3 linked regions of the Homo sapiens genome follow. The protein of the gene in region 2 purifies or fractionates together with the protein of the main gene of each other region. This does not show direct contact. Each region holds a gene or a part of one and is shown on either strand. Other genes may lie near its edges.

What was found. Proteins that work in one complex are often made in the same cells at the same time.
Region 1: the proteins of HSDL2 (region 2) and NIPSNAP3A purify together in Homo sapiens (affinity purification with mass spectrometry; 2 studies listed by BioGRID and IntAct, with this or other methods). This does not show direct contact.
Region 3: the proteins of HSDL2 (region 2) and MIPEP purify together in Homo sapiens (affinity purification with mass spectrometry; 2 studies listed by BioGRID and IntAct, with this or other methods). This does not show direct contact.

What each region holds. Positions count from the first base shown.
Region 1 is NC_000009.12:104,750,486-104,758,234, reverse strand, and holds part of NIPSNAP3A (protein NipSnap homolog 3A), read right to left. Parts: intron 7,280-7,749; coding exon 7,069-7,279; intron 5,330-7,068; coding exon 5,171-5,329; intron 3,685-5,170; coding exon 3,535-3,684; intron 1-3,534.
Region 2 is NC_000009.12:112,403,668-112,411,416, forward strand, and holds part of HSDL2 (hydroxysteroid dehydrogenase-like protein 2), read left to right. Parts: intron 1-327; coding exon 328-491; intron 492-1,956; coding exon 1,957-2,055; intron 2,056-5,239; coding exon 5,240-5,354; intron 5,355-7,749. UniProt on the Homo sapiens protein: Has apparently no steroid dehydrogenase activity. Controls bile acid (BA) and lipid metabolism in response to nutritional cues.
Region 3 is NC_000013.11:23,864,849-23,872,597, reverse strand, and holds part of MIPEP (mitochondrial intermediate peptidase), read left to right. Parts: intron 1-2,402; coding exon 2,403-2,585; intron 2,586-3,149; coding exon 3,150-3,306; intron 3,307-7,749. UniProt on the Homo sapiens protein: Cleaves proteins, imported into the mitochondrion, to their mature size.

The DNA of each region.
Region 1 (7,749 bases), 7.7 Mb from region 2:
TTAAAAACAGTATTTTCTATGGCAATATTAATTTTTAATGGTTATATAAATTCCTCCTTACAGATACAGCAACTTATTATGTCAACCCCTTATTGTTGACTATTTAGACTATTTCCAATATTTCAGTATTCTATAAAATACTGGAATAAATGTTGTTCTTGTACAAAATTGCTTATGAAGTTTTTATAATTGTAATATATACATGTTAGATGTATAGGAAAATGCAGATTAAAAACAAACTAATCATTTTATTTTTGGTGTATCTCTTTTATATTTGGTGTATCTCTTTCTATATTTGTGTATATATGTATTTTTATTTTTTAATTTTAATTTTATTTTTATTTTTGTAGAGACAGGTTCCCACTTTGTTGCCCAGGCTGGTCTCGAACTCCTAGCCTCAAGCAATCCTACTGCCTTGGCATCCCAAAGTGTTGGGATTACAGGCATGAACCACCACGCCTGGCCTGTATTTTTATATATAGTTGTATATGTATACAAATAAACATATATAAGCATATTTGCTTATGCTTATGTAAATACACGATATGACGTACATGTATATCGATTTCTGTATTACGTATGTATTACATAAAGAAGGTCATACTACATTTCCAATGTTTCTTTAATGTAAACAATATTAACATAAACTTCATTTGAGCACAACTATGTGTTTATAATAATACTTTCGATGACAACTACTGACATTTATTGAATGATAACTATGTGTCAGGCCTAGTTTTAAGCATTTTAATGTATTAACTCATTTAATCCTCATAATAATCTAGGTCCTCATAATAATCTATCATTTTATAGATGAAAAAACTAAGGTATGGTGAGGTTTACTTACCCAAAGTCAAAAAGTAAGTAGTGTACCTGGGATTCAAACCCAGGCAGTCTGAATCTGATTATTTCCTTAATATAAAGTAGAATTTAAGTTGACAGAACCAAAGAGCATGTCTTATATATATGTACTTACATATAGTGTATATAGTATACACTGTCCTCCAGAAATGATGTACTGATTACCAATTCTCCTAACACTGAGAATGAATTTAAGATTAAAAAGTGTATGAACACACATTTTCTGTAGTTTTTAAAAAAATAAAACTTAATATGTGCAGTATAGAAAATTAAGGTAGAGGCTAGGTGTAGTGGCTCAGGCCTCTTATCCCACCACTTTGGGAGGCCGAGGCGGGCGGATCACCTGTGGTCAGGAGTTTGAGACCAGCCTGGTGAAATCCTGTCTCTACTAAAAATACAAAAATTAGCTGGGCATGGTGGCACACAGCTGTAATCCCAGCTACTTGGGAGGCTGAGGCAGGAGAACCGCCTGAACCAAGGAGGCGGAGGTTGCAGGGAGCTGAGATCGTACCTGCACTCCACAGAGCGAGGCTCCATCTCAAAAAAAAAAAAAAAAAAAGAATATTAACATAGAGACTTAACCATTTATCTCACTGAAATATGACTACTATGTATGTTATATACTTTCAAATTTCTTTTCTGTATAATTTAGCACACCTATACACATACACACCCAGGCATATTTTCTAGAAGTAATACTGGCAAAAACAATAAAAATAAGGCTTTTATTTTTATTGTCAAATTTTGGGGGAAGATTAAGCTAATATGAACCCTACACAGTATCTGAGTACTTATTTTTTCCTGACCTAATACTATATCCATGTAAGTATACCTTTTATAAGGTAAAGAAATGGCATCTCATTATTGTTTTAATATGCATTTTCTTTAATATATATTTAGTAGCCATGTGCATGTCTACTTTTGCATAAATTTTTATTTTTATTTTTGCTTTTGAATTTCATTTATGGTGATTTTCAGGCATCCAGATAGTTTGAGCCTTTGTATAATAAAATCATAAGTTGATTTTTTTTTCTTCATAGTTTCTTCATTTGCTTTTGGCTTACAAATATAGTCCCAATCCACATTATTAAATAAATTCATCTACATTTTGTTTTACCAATTTTATGAATTAAATTTTTTTCATTAAAATATACAATCCAGCTTGACTTTATTTTCGCATATGGTGTGAGATAGGCATCTAATAATTTTCATAACAGTTTCTCCTCCATGTATTTTCCAACCTGAATATACATCTGTTTTTATATATTCTATTTTCTTATGATAGATTATTACAAGAAGTTGAATTTCTGCATAAAGATGGGTATATTAGGTTTGAGATGTCCATTGGACATAAAGAGATAATAGAAAGGCAACAGGATATTATGATGAGTCTTTCAAATATTTGTTAGCTATTCTTAGACATTTATCCTTTCTTCGTTACTTTTTTTTTTTAAGAGACAGGGTCTCACTATGTCGTTCAGGGGTTGGAGTGCAGTGGTGCAATCATAGCTTACTGTAGCCTTGAACTCCTGGCTCAAGCAATCCTCCCACCTCAGCCTCCCAAGTAGCTAGGACTACAGGTGTTTGCCACCATGCCCAACTAATTCTTAAAATTTTTTTTGTAGAGACAAGCTGTGTTGCCCAGGCTAGTCGTGAACTCCTGGGCTTAAGCAATCCACCAGCCTCAGCCTCCCAAAAGCGCTGGAATTACAGGTATGAGCTACCTCATCAGCTCTTTTATCCTTTCAGATAAACTTTACAAATGTTTTTCTGAATTTGCCACAAAAAATCTTGAAATTCTGATTGAAATGTTTTTCAACATTACAAGTTAAATACCCCAAGTATGTGTTTTATTAAATAAATTTATATCCATATATAAATTTACCTCAATATATATACATATTTACTATATCTCCCTATATAGATATATATAAAACTGGTGGAAAATGGGTAAATTTTTATGAGGGGGGTTTTCATATTTATACAAAACATATATTACTTTTTTGCTTAGAGATAATCTCCCTACCCCAAATAATATTATTTTTAAAAAATCAATAAAAGTACATTCAGAGGAAAAAGAAATGATGAAAGTAACAGACTATTTCTTGAGGTTCCTTCATTTTTTTTTTTTTGAGATGGAGTTTTGCTCTTGTCACCCAGGCTGGAGTGCGATGGCACGATTTTGGCTCATTGCAACCTCCGCTTCCTGGATTCAAGTGATTCTCCTGCCTCAGCCTCCAGAATAGCTGGGATTACAGGCCCCCACCACCATGCCTGGCTAATTTGTTCTATTTTTACTAGAGACGGGGTTTCACCATGTTTGCCAGGCTGGTCTCGAACTCCTGACCTCAGGTGATCCACCCCCTCAGCCTCCAAAAGTGCTGGGATTACAGGCCTGAGCTACCGTGCCCAGCCGAGGTTCCTTCAGTTTAAAAAATTTAATCATTTTGATGTATCAGGGAAAACAGCTATTCAGCATTTGAAGGTTTCATAAGTTAACATTCTAAATAAATAAGATGTAAAACAGATTTTCTCAATTTTAAAAATTACAAAAAACTAAACATTTGGCAATAAATAATAAAACATACTCTATAATGAGAAAGAACCTGACCCAAGGAACTTAGGTCACAATATATATTACAATTTCATATAAGAAGAAATGGACAATTGTACCTCTGTTGAGTGCTCCGTACTCTGTGTGGAACACTCCAACTAGTTTTGTGTAGCCTAGATTGACATGAGCATGAACTGCCCTTTTAAATGCATCACCCCACAGAGCTGGCCCACCAGGTTTCATCTGAAAAGTGGCCAGTTCATAGACTCCTGGAATAGGGAGAAAAAGAATTTTTCAGAAAACATTCAAGCAATATCCAATCACGTTTCTCAGTGAATAGTCTTTCACTATCTACACACACAGATTTGGAGGATCAGACATGCATACATATTATGTAGACATGTTTATTATATTTGCACTCTCTGCTTTTATGCTTAGAAAGTCCTTGCCCATGTTTAAGAGTGAGTTGTTATGCTTAATCATACAGATGACAAAGAAAAAGAACTGGAAGCTATTATAACTATTATCTGAAATATTTTTAATCTATAACATTTGTTAAAAAACTGTTGAGAATGTATAATGATATAGAATTTTGAGCTGCAAAAGTCTATGCTTTTAGAAAATAAAAGAATAAAAGAAGAATTTTCCAATCTATATTTTCATTCTTTCCAATTTCCACTATGTTTTTCTTCATATAATTTCTCCCTATAAGTTTCCATTTTTAACAGGAACAGCAAAGCAAAGAGTGGACCTGAAGTGATATCTTTGAATTTTGGAGGAAAAAAGACAAACCTAAAGAGATGGTTTTATTTTTCCTAAATATCCAGGTAAATACTTGAAAAGTATTGTACACTTTGGACAGAAGTATAGGGCTGGTGGAGAGAAAGAAACTCTGGGACAAGTAGGAAAAGCATGTAAAAATTTCCAAGCAGTGATGTACACAGAGGAGGAGAACCAAGATTTGACACTGTCAGAGAAGTGAACTATTTTATTTAGATAGTGCTGAGAGCTGAGGGGACACCTAAGTAGGTAAAGATCCAAGGAAGACTTTGTAAATTTTTTGTAACCTAAATACACTACAAAGTTGGGAATAATGGGGGAAGTAAAATAACATTTAAATAAGTTTATGCTTTTCTAATCTGACCTTTATTTAAAACTGGATTGAGGTAATAGTTTCTTTAAGTCAGCAAGAAGTGAAATCAGCAAGAAGACAAATCTTAAGCAATTACTTTCAAACTGAGAAACAAGAAAGAAGACACAAAAGTTAGATTAAAGTAATATAGCTTGGCAGTTTCACTTAATCTGTTTCCCCCAAATACTCAGTTTTATAAGCAAAGCTGTATTTAATGATTTAAGATTAGTTATAATTTATGGAAATACTTTTACATTTTAAAGATCATATTATTTTAAAATTATGGCAAAACTTCTTATGCTATCCCTTACCTATCAACACGTTCTCTGCTCCCAATGCACAAATTCTCAACCTCTACTGACCATGTCAGCTTTCTCTATAACACAGTTAAGCTTTACAAATCTGCAAGGTCTCAATTTGAAAAATATCTCATTATTTTATGCTCATTTTTTTAAAGGATGGGGTAAGAGCTCCCATTTATTTTTACCACAACAATCACTGTATGTTTCTATATAAAACAAAGAATTAATTTTATTTTTTTCCAAAGGAACTTCAGTTTTGATCACTTAAGTTCTTTAGTATTTTATTCATCAAAACTCAGTGACTAAGAAGGAAGGACTTACCTTCTTTTGGAGGTTTTTCTAATTTGCACCATGGTACCAGATAAGTAATCTCACTCTCTTGTTTATCAATGAGAGCCAAATTTGGAATGAGGAATTGTTCTTGCCATTCCTTATCTTTGGCCAAGGCTTTCCGAACTTCAGTTCGATGAGCAAAATTATCTGTGGGAAGAAAAGAATTAAGAAAAATAAAAAATTCAATTTTAAATCACCTGTACTTTTCTGGGTTTCATTCACATCAGCAATGGTCATTGATGCCATATAAGAACCTTGTGTTAGGCCTTTGGAGACACCAACGTAAACAGATGTGACCATCTGCCCTGAAGTTGCTCAAGGACAAAAAGGGCAGTAGAAATGCAAACTAACTGTAATGCCACATAATAGGCTTTATAGGCTCAACCATATAGTAGGCAGTTTTGTGAATTAGGTAAGTTATTGAATCTTTCTGTGCCTCACTTTCTGTGAAATTGAGATAATAAGACATCTACCTCCAGGGTTGTATGAGGATTAAATTAACACATGAAAAGAGTTTAGAATATAGCGGTTGGCACTAGTTAATACTCAGTATATGTGAACTATTCTTACTTGATTGAGGCATTTAACTTATAGTGCTAGTTTAGAGAAAGACTGTTTTTCTTTGGTGGTGGTGGGTAGTCAAGTTCAGATACACCCTGAATCAAATTTAACATGAGTGAAGTTAAAACATCTTGAATCAAATTTAACATGAGTGAAGTTAAACCGTACTTTTTAAGCCTCTTCTCCTTTGAACAAACAGATTTCAAAGAAATAATGCTGATTCTCTTATTGTCATCCATTCTTTCTCCCCAGCACTTATTTCTCTTCTATTTAAGTTACCCAAACAGTTATATACATTTGCCAACATATGGGCCTAGTACTATAATTACCATTAGGACCTCATAAGACTAATGGCAAGAGAGGTTCATATGGTTTACATTGGGATAAGGAAGAATACCTATCTTACAACTTAAGTGAGGTATATCAGAACTTAGTTTTTTTAATGGGCTGTGATACAACTTGTACCACATCTAAAGCATAAAATGTATTTTAATGGGGCTTTTTCTATTAACAGGGAAAAACCCTAAACCAAACACTAAATGAAATTATTAAAAATTCTTTAGGTATCATCAAGTCCTGATGTAGACACTGGAGTAACAAGCATTCTGGGCATTCTTGTAACTTATTCTCCTTCCTCTACTAAACCAGGCGTAGGTTAGTTTCAACACGGGAAGAACTCTCTTTCATTCCTTTTCTTTTACCTCCCTAGAGTAGTATGACAGTGAATTCCTCAAAACTCTGGGGGTACAGATATGAAACAAATGTGGTCTCTAAACATAACAGAATTATTAAATCTCAGAGTTCAGTGAGGATTGAAAGTTAACCATCATCCCCTATAAACCTCCATATTGTGAAGTCCCTTAAATGGTTGAATTATTTCTGCTAAAATACTGATATCCAGCCCCCTAGCTTCAAAAAGAGAAAAGATACTTCTCCTTTCCTTTTGTGATCTTAATCCACTTGGACTTTTACAATTGCTGCTTTAAATTTTTCATGAACTATCTTTACAGCAAACCATTTTAATATTTTTCTGAGGTTTAAAGTCTAGTTCACAATTTTATCGCTTGATATATGAGATGCCATGTCTTCCAATTTATAATGTAATATAATGTAATGTTTAAGCAAGGGGTTAGAGGTGTACCACTGGGAAGAATAAGAACTGAATTTATTTTTTTGGTATTGCTTTTCAAAAGTCTTAGTTAACCTGTATGTATCTAAAATAATATACATCCAAGAACTAAGTTTTATGTTACATTTAACAGAATGAAAATCTATACTGAAAAATGAAAATCTATACTGAAAGCCAAAATTGGATGACTCTTTACCATACTTCCAAATATGAAACACTGTATTCATTCTGCCTCCAAATTCTACACTCCAGTATCCAACCAATTCAGAGTGAGCTGTCCGAAGATGAGCGTTTTTCTCAAAATTTTCCAGGAACTCATTCATCTTTGAGGGCTTAAGGTAATAAGAACGAAATTCATAGAATATTCCATCGTATTGTCTGGGTCCCGTAGCAAAAGATGAGCACATCTGAAGAAGATAAGACAAATGTAAATATCTTGAGAAGACAGGATTCATTATATTGTGTTAAAACCTAATCTGAATCTGGTACAAGGGACACTCATAGACTCATTACTCATGTTTGTACTTCTGTTGTCAATTCTCAATATGTTACTGATGGAGGGTGTCCAGGTTCTTGGTGTTTGAACAAAGAACTGGACAAAATGCACAAAGCAAGGAAAGAATGAAGTAACAAAAGCAGAGATCTATTGAAAATGAAAGCACACTCCACAGGGTAGGAGTGGGCCTGAGCAAGTGGCTCAAGGGCCCTGGTTACAGAATTTTCTAGGGTTTCAGTACCCTCTAGAGGTGTCCCATTGGCTATGTGGTGTAAGCCGTATATAAATGAAGAGGATGAAGTAAAGTTGCAAAGTCATTTACTCTGTGTACACCCTATGTAAATGAAGAGGGTATTTCTTGTCATAGCTGAAGGGTTTGAT
Region 2 (7,749 bases):
CACGTTTTCTGTGGGGAAAAAAATGCATGTTTATATAATTTGTTTTATAATTCTTTATTTCTCTTGAAGATTTGCTTTGCATTTGAACAGATTTTGTTTGCTAAATCACAGCAAGACTGGCCAACTGCAGTTGTCATAAATAATTTATCAGTCATTGTGCAATGGGAGTATAGTGGAGTTATCTGCCATCAGATGGGCATGGGGAGGGTTTAGAGAAAATTTCACAGAGGAGGAAACATATATTATGAAAATATGCATGAGGTTCTGATACCTGTCAGTAAATAAAACATTGGGTCTTCTAATAAGGTCGTATTTGTTCTGTTGTAGGAGGCTGGCAGGATGTACAGTTTTTATCACAGGTGCAAGCCGTGGCATTGGCAAAGCTATTGCATTGAAAGCAGCAAAGGATGGAGCAAATATTGTTATTGCTGCAAAGACCGCCCAGCCACATCCAAAACTTCTAGGCACAATCTATACTGCTGCTGAAGAAAGTGAGTGTGACAGTGCCATTTGATAAAATGTCTTTCTAGTGGTTTCAATACATAGAGAATTTGCTGGAGAGTTTAGTTAAAGCTATTTGAAAGCTACCCTGAACATAATTTTATCTAGTGAAAGAAGTATTTATGTTGTCACCTTGGGGCAGTGCTTCTGACCGTTTTTCTCCACCAGCACTTTTAAGCAATGTGAGAAACTCCAGTTAAAAATCTTATTTCATGGCGGGGCGTGGTGACTCACACCTGTAATTTCACCCAGCTACTCGGGAGGCTGAGGCAGGAGAATCACTTGAACCTGGGAGGTGGAGGTTGCAGTGAGCCAAGATCATGCCACAGCACTCCAGCTTGGGTGACAGAGCGAGACTCCATCTCTTAAAAAAAAAAAAATCTTGGTTCTTGAGGGCAGTGGTTCTTGGATGGGAGGGGGAGTAGGGAAGTGGAGTAGAGAGGAGAGAATTTGATTGGTGAGTGGCATGAACTCTTTGAGAAAGCGTTCTGTGTTATTTATTCTCTGTACAATTTGCAAGTCATCATTTTAATACTTTTAGTTGACAAATAATTATCACATACTTCTATTTAAGGCATAGCGCTAGGCACAGAGCCAGGAGAGAGGGCTTAAAAATTCAAGTTCAGTTGACATTGCTAGTTTTGTTAATCATGTTCAGAGCACTGTGGTTATGTTAGAGGAATGCATGTGAAGTGTTTATGAGTGAAATGATGTCAGGGATTTGCTTTAAAACACACCAGCAAAAAATAAAACAGGGGACAGGAAAGATAAACATATTAACTGACAAAACTAACAATCGTTGAAGATAGGTGATGGATTCCTGTTAGTTTATTACAGCATCTTTACATTTTTATATAGTTTAGAATATTTCCACAATAAAAAGTTTTTAAAAATTACTTTCAACTGGGTGAGGTGGCTCAAGCCTGTAATCCCAGCACTTTGGGAGGCCAAGGCGGGTGGATCACTTGAGGTCAGGAGTGCGAGACCAGCCTGACCAACATGGCAAAACCGTGTCTCTACAAAAAATAGAAAAATTAGCCTGGCGTGGTGGTGCATGCCTATAGTCCCAGCTACTTGGGAAGCTGAGGTGGGAGGATCCTTTGAGCCTGGGAGATTGAGGCTGCAGTGAGCTGTGTTTGTGCCACTTCACCCAAGCCTGGGCAAGAGAGTGAGACCCTGTCTGAAAAACAAAAACAAACAAACAAAAAACTTCCTTTTTTTAGCTTTTTAAAAAAATTACAAAGAAACCCCCACCAAACCTTCGTTTTTGTTTTTTAATAGTGTTAGCCTAGCTAGTCTGTCCTGCTATATGGTAGAGTCACTGGTGGTAAGATAGAGTTATTTATATTGATTTTCTGAAAACAGGGTACTTTTTTCTTTTGACTGTGATATTGGAATTAAAGGTATAATATTTAAATGCTTTAACGCTTTTTCATTTTGTATCCTTTATATAAGTTGAAGCAGTTGGAGGAAAGGCCTTGCCATGTATTGTTGATGTGAGAGATGAACAGCAGATCAGTGCTGCAGTGGAGAAAGCCATCAAGAAATTTGGAGGTAATACCTTCATTCTGAAAAAATTATTGGATATTGGTAAAATAAAGGTATAACTATAATGTTAATTTAAAAATTTGTTTTGAGTTTTGAATTTTCTGAGTCTTTGGAGAAATACGTATTTGCTCACACAGAACATGATTTAAAACCATCTGATAAGGCTGGGCGTGGTGGCTCACACCTGTAATCCCAGCACTTTGGGAGGCCGAGGCAGGCAGATCACTTGAGGTCAGGAGTTTAAGACCAGCCTGGCCAACATGGTGAAACCCCGTCTCTACTAAAAATACAAAAATTAGCTGAACATGGTGGTGGATGCCTGTAATCCCAGCTACTCAGGAGGCTGAGGTGGAAGAATTGCTTGAACCTGGGAGGTGGAGGTTGCAGTGAGCTGAGATTGCACCACTGCATTCCAGCCTGGGTGACAGAGCAAGACTCTGTCTCAAAAAGAAAAAAAAAAAAAAGAAAAAGAGTGTGGAATGATAGACTGTGGAGACTGGGAAGAAAGAAGGGATGCAAGGGGGGTAGATGAAGAGAAATTACTTAATCGGTACAATGTTTGCTGTTTGGGTGATGGATACCCTAAAAGTCCTGGACACTGCACAATCTATGTATGTGAGAAAATTGCACTTGTGCCTTATATATTTGTTTTTGAAAAAATTCTTCCTTTATGTGGTTAAATTTCATCTTCTTCACAAAGTCAGTTCCCTCACCATGCCAACTAATCAGAATTATATTTTTCTTTCTCTGATTTCTTTTTTCTTTTTTTTTGAGACTGAGTCTTGCTCTTGTCACCCAGGCTGGAGTGCAGTGGCGCAATCTCGGCTCACTGCAACCTCTGCCTCCTGGGTTCAAGCGATTCTCCTGCCTCAGCCTCCCGAGTAGCTGGGATTACAGGCGCCTGCCACCATGCCCAGCTAATTTTTGTATATTTAGTAGAGACAGGTTTCGCCACATTGGCCAGGCTGGTCTCGAACTCCTGACTTCATGATCCACCCAACTCAGCCTCCCAAAGTGCTGGGATTACAGGCGTGAGCCACCGTGCCCGGCCTCTCTGATTTCTTAAAACATTCATTTGATCCTTATCTTGTACTATTTTAGATCTTAGTATTTCTTTTCTCCCCAATTAGTTCAAAAGTTCCTAGAAAAAAGGTGTTGGGGATTGAGCTAAGGCTTTCATGGTATTATAGTAGGGCACCTAGGCATGTCCAAATCCTGCCTAAACCATTACCACTCTCCCCGCTAATGTTCTGGAGGACCATATGTACATGTGAGGGACAATGGCCAGTGGAAAATGAGGGAATGCTTCAGTGTTAGCAAGGCTGTACTTATAATCCCAATGCAGAGTGCTGTGGGGTGCTGGACTGAAGCACGGAGCTTTGGCTCAAGTGGAGCCTCTTCCCTTAAATCCAAAATCTTACCCCTAGCCGGCAGCCTTTCCCAAAGAAATGTGAATGCCTGTGTCAGAAGAGGAGAGAAAATGCAAAATGATGTTTGTCCAACTGATAGGGCGCTAAATGTGAAATGTGCCACGCTCAAATGCAGGATATTTTATCTAAAATGACTTCACCTAGTAGTAAAAGTGGTTAACTAGTGCCACTTAGGATTTGATGTAATTAGTTTATCCACTAATTTTTGGAGAGGACGTAAGGGGAGAAAGCTGAAGCTTTTCATTCTCCCATATTCATTCAGTTTTAGTTCTTTTTTTTTTCTTCTTTGAAACAGGGTCTCACTCTGTCACCCAGACTGGTATGTAGTGGCATGATCGTGGCTCACCACAGCTTTGGCCTCCTGGGCTCAGGTGATCCTCCAACCCCAGCCTCCCAAGAAGCTGGGACTATAGGTGCCCACCACCAGGCCTAGCTAATTTTTGTGTTTTTAGTAGAGATGGGGTTTCACCATGTTGGCCAGGCTGGTCTCAAACTCCTGACCTCAAGGGATCCACCCACCTCAACTTCTCAAAGTGCTGGGGTTACAAGCATGAGCCACTGTCCCCAGCCTTGAATTTATTATTTAATTTTTTAAAATTGTGGTAAAATACACATAACATAAAATTTACCATCCTATTTTTAAGTGTACAGTTCAGTGACATTGAAGTTTATTATATTGTTACACAACCATCATTAAGTACACTTCACAAAGAATAATGAAGACCAGGTAGAAACAAAGAAAAAATGTTTGACATAGTTTTTGTATTTTTACCATTTTCCTTTAATGTTATTTCACTAAGCATATAACTATAAGCAAAACTTGTTGGTTATAGGTAGAAACTAGATAGAATTTGCAGAAATAGTAGTTACTCTAGGTTTATTTTTTGTGTGTGTGTATGAGTCACTAAAACAAAATTGATCCACTTTGATGATCTGCCTGGGATTGAAACAGTAGGTCTTTCTCTTTTCCCAGTTCTCAAGACCAGAAAGGAGCCTTTCCCTTTAAGTGAGGGGCCTTGGGGGAAGGGAGACTACTATGCTTGGAGGGAGGACAGGCCTTTGAAACTTCATGCTAGAGAGGAAGAAAGACTTTAAGGAATTTGATCCAAGGTTTATGGAGACAGGGAGGGACAACCAGGAGGTAAGAGAACAGTTAAGAGTGGAAGCTACAAACCACCGAAGACTAAGCCTCCTTGTAGTTTCACATGGAGCTCTGGCAATTGGCTATATCTCCACTGTGCTAGTGACAATCATGCAGGTGCTATTTTGAAATAGCTACCAGTCTTGCATTGGTAGTGGTTAGTCATATTATCTAAAGGAAGTATAGCCATGCATTGCTTAATGATGGGGATATGTTCTGAGAAAGGCATTATTAGGTGATTTTATGATCGTATGAACATAGAGTATACTTACACAAACATAGATAGTCTAGCTGACCACATACCTAGGCTGTATGGCATAGCCTATTGCTTCCAGGCTGTAAAGCTGTATAACATGTTACTGTACTGACTACTGTAGGCGTTTGTAACACAACAGTAAGTATGTATCTGAACAAACTTAGACAGAAAAGAGATAAAATAAAAAAACAGTATTGTAATCTTAAGGGACCATGTTGCGTATATGGGCCATTGTTGATTGAAATGTTAGGTGTGGTACATGACTGTATTTGTGAATCAACTGAGGGTTCAAGAGAGTAAACGCTTTTTTTGTGTGTGATAAAAAGTCTTTCATTAAAATGAAATTGATTATTTTGAAAACAGGAATTGATATTCTGGTAAATAATGCCAGTGCCATTAGTTTGACCAATACATTGGACACACCTACCAAGAGATTGGATCTGATGATGAACGTGAACACCAGAGGCACCTACCTTGCGTAAGTTTGCAAGAAGAGTTGTTGGGGAGGAAGTTGCGGTGTTTCTCAGGGAACTTACATAGTTGTAAACAGATTTGAGCCAAATTAACAGTGTAGTTCAAAATCTAGTCAATCCTTATAAGGGTCTAAAAGTCCTTCATTCAGTCAATAGTATTTTATTTTATTTTTTATTTATTTATTTTTTTGAGATGGAGTTTCATTCTTGTTGCCCAGGCTGGAGTGCAGTGGCACGATCTCAGCTCACTGCAACCTTTGCCTCCTAGGTTCAAGCGATTCTCCTGCCTCAGCCTCCTGAGTAGCTGGGATTACAGGCGCCCACCACCATGCCCAGTTGATTTTTTGTATTTTTAGTAGAGACAGGGTTTTACCATGTTGGCCAGGCTGGTCTCAAACTCCTTACCTCAGGTGATCCACCCACCTTGGCCTCCCAAAGTGCTGGGATTACAGGCATGAGCCACCATGCCCAGCCCGATAGTATTTTAAATAGCTTTATTTGGAGCTCCTTTTCTCTATGAATTTAGGAAAGACTAAAGTAGGCTGAGTGCAGTGGCTCACACCTGTAATTTCAGCACTTTGGGTGAGGGGAGTATTATTGGAGGCCAGGAGATTGAGACTGAGATGCACAAGATGGCAAGACGCTGTCTCTACAAAAAAAAGTTTTTAAAATCAGGCAGGCATAGTGGTTTGTGTGCTACTGAGACTGTGGTGGTGGTCTCATCTACTCAGGAGACTGAGGCAAGAGGATCCCTTGAGCCCAGGAGTTTGAGGCTACAATGAGCTGTGATCATGCCACTGCACTCCAGCCTGGGTAACAGAGAAAGACTGTCTCCAAAGAAAAAAAAAAAAGACTAAAGTGTAGCTCAAGCATTTTCTCAAATATTTGCATGTGTAAATACTTACATGTATACTCTGTCTTTCATAGGACACAGTCCTTTCATAGGACTATTTAGGATTACTGAAGCCAGCAATAGTCTCCTTCCTCTGAAAAAGACCTGGCGTTAAAAAAAAAAAAAGACGTAGGTTTTAGTTATTTAAATAACAGTAAGGTCATTCTCATTATGAATCACACTTTATTGTAACCAATAAAAACACTAATACTTTCTTGGGCTTTGCCGGGGAAATGTAGACTATCGAATGAAAGAACATAGTCTTGATCTGTTCTGGATTCATCAGACAACCTGTCTTATTGTCCATTTATTTATCTGTTTATTTACCCTCTGGTTCTATATTTTCCATGTGGATATCAGGATACATCAGGTTAGAACTTGCTTCTGTACCTTACATGTATCTTGTTAACACACAGAATAGGTGGTTAGGAGCTTAGGCTCTGGAGTAAGACTGCTTGGATTCAAATCTTAACACTCACCCCTCATGACTTTCTATTTTGTGACCTTGGACAAGTAACTTAACTTCTTGCAGATTCAGTTTCTTTACTTTTAAAATGGCAATAATACAGTAATATGTTATAGGGTTGGTCACGAGGGTTAAATGTCTAAGTTATTAAGTTAGAGTCCTGAATTTTTCCCTCAGGTATGTTTTGTTGGGTCTGCAAAACTTGGCCCAGACAGTGTTAAAACAAAATTGTTTTCATTAGTTACCTACATTCAAAGTTTTATTAGTTAGGGCCAGGCATGGCGGCTCATGCTTGTAATCCCAGCACTTTGGGAGGCTGAGCCAGGCGGGTCACTTGAGCCCAGGAGTTCGAAACCAGCCTAGACAACATGGCAAAACCCTGTCTCTACAAAAAATAGAAAAATTAGCTGGGGATGGTGGCACACGTGCCTGTAGTCCCAGCTACTTAGGAAGCTGAAGTGGGGGGATTGTCTGAATCTGGGAGGTGGACGTTGCTGTGAGCTGAGATCACCCTACTGCACTCCAGCCTGGGTGACAGAGCGAGACCCTGTCTCAAAAACTTTATTGGTTGCTTATGTTGAAAAAATTAGAAGATTTATACAAAAGTCCAGATTTCTAGCTTTTCTTGAAATCTTAGAAGATCTGGCCAAATAGAGAAGCATTACCACATGGCAATAGTTGCTGTAGCTGAGTGGCAGGGTTATCAACTGCCTCATCAGATGGGGCCAGAGCTCTGTTGTCTTCTGGATGCTGAGGACAGACTAACAAGTTATATCATTGCATTTACACTGTTGTTTTTCTTATATGAAAGAGGAAAGTGAAATATTTCTCATAACCACATCTCTCTCTGAATTGGGAAAATGAGACTTATGCCAAGAGGGCCGTATGTTCAAGCAAAATGGGTGAAAGCTTACTTGTTTGTAGATGTAAGGCATATTTCTATAAATTCGATATGTAAGGTAGGTCTCTATTGAATGAAACCATATTGAATCCAACTGTAGTAAGAATTATGGCAAATGGCTGGGCACAGTGGCTCATGCTT
Region 3 (7,749 bases), on a different chromosome or scaffold from region 2:
CAGGATATAAAGTAGACATGTTCCATTTTTCAAAAGAGAGACCATGAAATAAACCCACCAACAAAATCTATAAATCATCAAAGCCTATGTTCTTTCCAGTTGGTTTCTTATTTATTTATTATTATTATTATTTTTTGAGACAGAGTTTCACTCTTGTTTCCCAGGCTGGAGTGCAATTGGGCAATCTTGGCTCACCGCAACCTCCGCCTCCCGGGTTCAAGCGATTCTTCTGCCTCAGCCTCCTGAGTAGCTGGGATTACAGGCATGTGCCACCACGCCCAGCTAATTTTGTATTTTTGGTAGAGACGGGGTTTCTCCATGTTGGTCAGGCTGGTCTCGAACTCCCGACCTCAGGTGATCCACCTGCCTCAGCCTCCCAAAGTTCTGGGATTATAGGCGTGAGCCACTGCACCCGGCCTTAATTTTTAAGGTCTCATACAAATATAACTTATAAGTTTAAATGTAATAGAAATGTTTATTTTTAACATTATTTAATAACACAGAAATTTCATAGAATTTTTCAAGAGTTCAGATTATTGTACATTTCATTGTTACCACAGAATGATGAAGTGATATGCCTGGCAGATCATTGAAGTTGGCATGAACTCAGTTTTGATTTTTCCAGAGGTTTTATCAGTAGATAAAATCTTCAAAGTAGTTAATTTTATCACATTTTTTTTTTCAAAGTAAAAGTTTTGAAGACAATTTTGGAACTGTAATGTGATTTCAAAATCTTGTTCATCTTTTTTGTTATTCCACTTGTTACCATTAGGTGGTGATAAATGGCCATATCAAACAAAATAAGCAAAGAGAAATCTGGACTGTAAGGAAATGGGAGTCTCCTAAAACTTTTTTCCATGAAATTTGAATTTTCTATATTGAAATTCTGGGGATATTGATATATACTCAATTTTTTCAGCATCTTATCAAGCATGCCTCTACATCATCTATGTTTATCTTTAAAAAGTATATTAGTATTGTGGCTTAATCATTTTTTAGGAGCATAGAACAGTTTAGAACTTGTTAATTGCTATCTCCTCTCCCAGAAAGATTTGTGTACACTTTCACCTGAAGCCCAACATGAGCCCAGTGCGGAGCCTGTCTAGTTTTTTGGTAACCAGTAACTGAAAATTCATATGCAGAGCCTGTCTAGTTTTTGAGTAACCAATAACTGAAAATTCATCTGCAGAGCCTGTCTAGTTTTTGAGTAGCCAATAACTGAAAATTCAGCCCTTCTCCTCCAGTCAGCCTAATTATGTGGTTTCTAGTTTATATTTAATCTTAGAGCATTTATGGCAACCCCTTTGCTAATACACGTTTTCTCAGGTTATTGTGTATTACAAAGATATGACTGCAAGATTAAACCTAAGCAGATGTGTCCGCACCATCCACGTCCTCATCACTGACCATTTGAAGGCCTGGCAGGAGCAAGGACCATGTGCCACATGGCAGGGACACAGAGTAGAAGAAAGGACCATGCCCTGGGGTTCCAGTCTGCTTCTTAGACTTCACTGTATCATTCTGTAGCAGCTCAAGCACATGCAAAATCAGAACTTTATTCCCCCCTGAGACAGGGTCTCGCTTTGTTGCCCAGGTTGCAGTGGTGTGATCGTAGCTCACTGAAGCCTTACCTCCTGGGCTCAAGTGATCCTGCTGCCTCAGCCCCACATAGGGCTGGGACTGCAGGCGTGTGCTACCACACCCAAAATCAGAACTTTTAAAATGTGCTTCCCCCTTCTGGAGGCTCACTACACTTTTGCAAATAACTGTTTTTTTGTTTTTTGTTTTTTTTTGAGACAGAGTCTCCCTCTGTCTCACAGGCTGGAGTACAGTGGTGCGATCTCGGCTCATTGCAACCTCCGCCTCCTGGGTTCGAGCGATTCTCGTGCCTCAGCCTCTTGAGTAGCTGAGATTATAGGCACGTGCCACCACGCCCAGCTAATTTTTGTATTTTTAGTAGAGATGGGATTTCACCATGTTGGCCAGACTGGTCTCCAACCCCTGACCTCAAGTGATCTGCCCTCCTTGGCCTCCCAAAGTGCTGGGATTACAGGCGTGAGTCACTGCACCTGGCATGTGTTTTTCAATGTTGTTAATTTCAACAATTAGTTATATAACCTAGACATAAAATAGAACTAGAAGTTATGTAAATCTTAAAACATAGAAACATCAGAAAACCATAAGTATGATCTTTTTGTTAGAATATTAAATATCTGTTAAAAGTAAAATTAATATATTATTTATAATATAGTAACAATATATTCATTTTACTAAACTAATATTTTATTAAGTGATAATTCAACAATATATATGTTGATTTGACATATTTATATTTTGTTTATTAAATTGTGAAATATTAATTCAAAACGCCTTTAAATAACTTTTACTCCTCCTGCATACAGCGTAAAAGAGCAGTGGACCTCAATGTTAAAATCTTGGATTTGAGTAGTACATTTCTTATGGGAACCAATTTTCCCAACAAGATTGAGAAGCATCTCTTACCAGAACACATTCGTCGTAACTTTACATCTGCTGGGGATCATATCATAATTGATGGTCTCCACGCAGAATCACCAGATGACTTGGTATGTATGTTTCATTCTCTTTGTTGTTTAGGTCCCATTTGTGTGTTGCTACTGTTTTAACCCAAAATTCAGTGATAATATAATAGTATCCTTAAAAACTTTTTAGCATTACTAAGCCCTAAAAATTTAACTTGTGGAATTATTAATGCCATAAACACTTTAAAGAATGAAAATGATTTAATTACTTATATTTCATACAAGACTCCTTATTTTTAAAGTATGATTAATAACACCATTAACTGACATTCTAGACTACAGAGACTTTTAAATTCATGCAGCCTTACTTCTCCTGGTTAAGACGCTTTATAGCATAGAGATCCACGCACTGGGTAGAGGTTTGCCCCACCGTACCTCAGAACAGTACCCTAGAGCTGCAGTCAAGTATGCTATTGCATCCCATGCTATTTTATGACTCTGGAAGCTTTATGGCCTCGTGTAGACCATTGCTTTATTTTGAAAGCAGTGATCATCTGCAGATCAAGTGGTGAGCATGAGCCTGTGTTATTGTTGCATAGGACTGTGTGATGATATTTATAGCCTTCACCATTTACTTTTTAAACGTAGGTGCGAGAAGCTGCTTATAAAATTTTTCTTTATCCCAATGCTGGTCAATTGAAATGTTTAGAAGAATTGCTCAGCAGCAGAGATCTTCTGGCAAAGTTGGTGGGGTATTCCACGTTTTCTCACAGGGCTCTCCAAGGAACGATAGCTAAAAATCCAGGTAAGCCTGTTTATCCAACATTTAAGGGCAAAATAGGATTTTTATGAAACTGAGCTTTTGATTTTAAATAGCTGTAAATTAGTGTTCTATTTTTAATACATGTAGAGAACCATTTATTGAGATTTTCTATGTATTTTTATAGGAACCATTTTTAAATAGAGCTAATAATTTGGCATAATTCTGTCCAACCAAAGAATTTTATTTTATGTGAATGTTGAGAGTAAAATCATAACCTAAATTTTCATTTTGATGTTAGTCTAAATTGTTTTCATTTTAACACAGTTTCTGTGCTGAATTTGACAAATTGGTTAGAATTAGTGTAAGAGAATGAAAGATCAGTATGTTTACTGAGGTCAAGGTTAAATGTAGGTTAGGTCATATAAAAAACACACAGTCAGATAAGCCTCCTTTTCAGAGAGAAGAGTACTGCTTAGGAAGGTTTGTGCTAGGTGAGGTGTTACGGAAGTGTGTCGTTGGGTTTGTCATAAACTTGCCTTGTGCTATGTTGAGTTCCTTATGATTCATAATGTCTAAGAGAAAATGTTACACAATAATAATATAAATGTACATAATACGTTTTTTCAGAAGCATTTATTAACTTACAGTTGTAATTTAGGTGGTGAGTCAGGAGTAGGGTGGCCGTGATGATGGAGCTGCGTGAGACTCAAGGTCTTGGCAGTGAAGTTGCAAGACTTAGTGAGGGTGAGAGGGAGGAGGAGGCATTGTGGTGGGCCCCCTGGGTTTCTGGTTGTACATCTGGTTAGACATTCCACTCACCGACAGAGGGGACACTGGGGGCAGATCACAACCTGAATCCTCGCTTGTCTTTATTCCTTCTGTGCTTATCCCTTCTCACCCTAGCATGTTCCTCTCTTCTCCAAAGTTCTCTAAATGCACTCAATCTTACTTCTTACTCTTTCGTAAACAACTGTTTCCCTTGACCTGTCAGGGCTCTCGGTTAAGCTACAGGCGTGTCACGCTCATTGCGGCCTGGGTTCCCTTGCTCGTGTCACTCTCCTATGGAGAGCAGCTTTTCTTCCTGGTCTGCCTGTTAAAATCTTACCCCGTTTTTTTAGTGCTCAGCTCAAAACCCACCTCTTTCATGAAGCTGGTTAAACTTTTTCACTTTCCTTGGACTCCTTTGTCCCCGAACCCTTAAAACACTTACATTTTTTTTCATATAATCGAAGCTCCTAAACAGATATAATATGTATGTTATGTATTAAATGTGTGTTTTTAGTGTATGTTTTTTCTTTTTTTGTAAGTATCAGTTTGGTGAAAAGTATGTTTTTCTGTAGTCGCTGTTGTCAACAGTTTGATTATAATAGTACCATATTTTTATTTTATATTTATATAAAATAATAATATTAGAATATCATTCAGTGCTTATCCTGTTGTTATCTCATTTCCTTCCTCTGCAGCTTTGTGAGGTAGGTATTTGTATTCGTGTCACAGATAAGGAATCTAAGGTTAGGTTATATTGCTAAAATGTGGCAGAACTGAAGCCTAAACACATATGCTACATTTATGGTTTTCCACAGGCTGCTTGAGACCTAATGCCCTATGTTTTATATCATCTACATCCCCCTTTTGTTTATTAATTCAGCAAATATTTACTGATTGCCCACTGTATGTCAGATATTATTCTCGGTCAGGGAAATAAGTCAGTGTACAAAGCAGAAGAAAATTCCTATCCTTATGCAGTTTACATTCTTGGGAGCAAGGGAAGAACAGTAAAGAACGAAATAAGTAGATAAAGTATGTGGTATGTTATTAGTTAATACAAGCCATGGAGAAAACTGAACAGGGAAGGGGATAAGGTATGTGGGCATGTAGGCTGGTGTTGGAGTTTTAGAGAGCATTGTCGGAAGGCTCACTTAGAATGTGGAATGTGAGCGTGCTCTTGACAGACACAAGCATGAGGCTGTGGCTCTTGAGGGGAGAAAGGTTTCACGCAGAGTCACTATCAAGTGCTAAGGTCTTGAGGCAGAAAAATGCCTGCCACGTTTGAGGAGGGCAGAGTGGCTGAAGCGCAGCGTGTGCAAGGAGAGTGGCGAGAGGTGGGAACAGACTGACAAGGGGCGGCATTAAGTAGAGACTTGATGCAAGTGCAGCAGGTCACTGTGGGGGTTGGGGCAGAGGAGTGAGATGATCTGACTCCAGTGCTAATGGTGAGTCAGTGCTGCTGTTCCTGAGAGAAGACTGCAGCAGGGCCAGGGTAGAAGAGGGCCTGTTTAGATGCTGTTTTGCAGTAACCATGATGAGAAGTGTTGGCATCTTGACCAGGTGGTAGCAGGGAAGGTGGTAAGATGTGATCAGATTCTGGGTACAGAGTATTTGGAAGAGGGAGCCAACATTTTCGACCTAAGCAACTAGAAAGAGAGTGAGTTACTACTGTTAACTAAGATTGGGAGGACCGGAAACTTGGTTTGTTTCAAGTTAAGTTTGAGATACCAAATGAGGTTCAAGTGGTGAAGTTGGGTAGGCAGTTAGATGGAGTGTGGAGTTCTGAGCTTCATATGTAAGTCTGAACCTCTAAAATGAGATTCTGATACCACTAAGAGAGTGAACTTAAAGAACAAGTCCAAGGACTGCGCTCTGGGGCCTTCAAGTTTAAGAGGCCAGGCATGTGAGGAACTGCTAGTTAACGCTGCCAGATGTAACGGCCACTAAGGGAGGTGGAAAGTGATTACAGGGTGTGGTCCTGGAGGCCGCGCAGAAGGTCTGTCTACAGGAGAGGGGAGAGATCAGCTGACTCATGCTGTGGCCAGGTCAGATGTGAGGAGGGCTGGGCATGACCACTGGCTGTAGCAGCGTGGAGCTCACTGGACCTGCAGCACCCAGCTCCAGATTCCGTGACTGGCAGGTCACCCTTGTGCACTAAGTGCTTGGTGTGCTGATGTATTGGCAGGGGGCTGTTGTGCACATCATCACGTAAGATGTGCTCTGGGTCCTTGAGGATTTAAAGCTTAGTTGAGGAGCTGGATATATGCATATAAAAAGATAAATAATAATAGAGGTTGGCACGTTTTCGGTGTCGATGGAGTAGTACAGACAAAACAATGCCATGGGATTTAGGAGCTCGGGGCATTTGTCAGATGCATCTGTGGCTGTGGAAGGCGCCCTGAGGGAAATGAAACTGTCATGCACAGTGATGGAGTGAGTCCTCAGCAGAGCAGAAGGAAGACAGAGAGGCTGACTGAGGCTAAGGCGGGCATTCATGTGGCTAGTGAATGAGGAGGTAACTGCGGTGAGGCACTTAGTGGGGGGTTTCAAACTGAATCTTAATATGACAATTCTCTGGGGACACTAATTGAGGCAGGCCAGATGTGGTGTCTCATGCCTGTAATCTCAGCACTTTGGGAGGCTGAGGCAGGCAGATCACTTGAGGTCAGGAGTTCAAGAACAGCCTGGCCAACATGGTGAAACCCCATCTCTACTAAAAATACAAAAATTAATTGGGCGCGGTGGCGGGTGCCTGTAATCCCAGCTACTCAGGAAGCTGAGACAGGAGAATCGATTGAACCCTGGGAGGCAGAGGTTGCAGTGAGCCGAGATGGGACTTCTGCACTCCAGCCTGGGCAACAGAGCAAGACTCCATCTCAAAAAAAAAAAAAAATTAATTGAGGCAGATTCTTCACATGTAAAATGACTGGAAGAATAAGATGGGTGAATGTTAAAACACGGTTATTAAGAAATAAAACGTATACAAGCATACATAGGGATTCATTTGAAAACAGTTTGGTATGGTACCTGGAATATAATCCTAAAATGAGATTTCATTGTTGACTAAATAATGTCTTTGTTCCCCAAAAATTCCTATTGTTGTTTCATATGGCACATGAGCCAGTGTTTTCAGAATTCGTATACACAGGACTTGTTAAGTATTGACAGTGGCAAGAAACCTCATGGTTTGGGTTTAGGTTAACCACCATTATTTATTTCCTTAGTCTTTTATTTCACTCAAAAGGAGATAACTTAAATTGAAGAGAGGGCAGGAAACTTAAAACTGTATAAAAGATTATCTGGAAAATACAAACATAGTGTTTGTGGTGAACTAAAATACATATGAAAGCTCTGTACACATAAGTCAGTGATAAAAAGTGCTACATTCAGAAATACTTGCAAAACATTTCCTCTTGTGGGAAACGGTGATAATTCTACTGCACTGCCTTTATGGGTTTGTAAATTATGACAACTATGGCAGAAGTATTTTAATAAAAATACTTTAAAAATTCTATCAGAAGTTAATATTTATTTTTCTTATTTTGCTATTTTTTTCATATTTATCCTGAATAGATTATTCTACAGTTGTATATAACAATAAAATTGTTATCAAGAAAAACATTGATCTTAAAAAATTTATTTCAGGGAATTATACTTCTACACTGCACCTATTTTTATGAACAAAGCAGTCTAGATATCTCTTTAAAACTCTGAAAA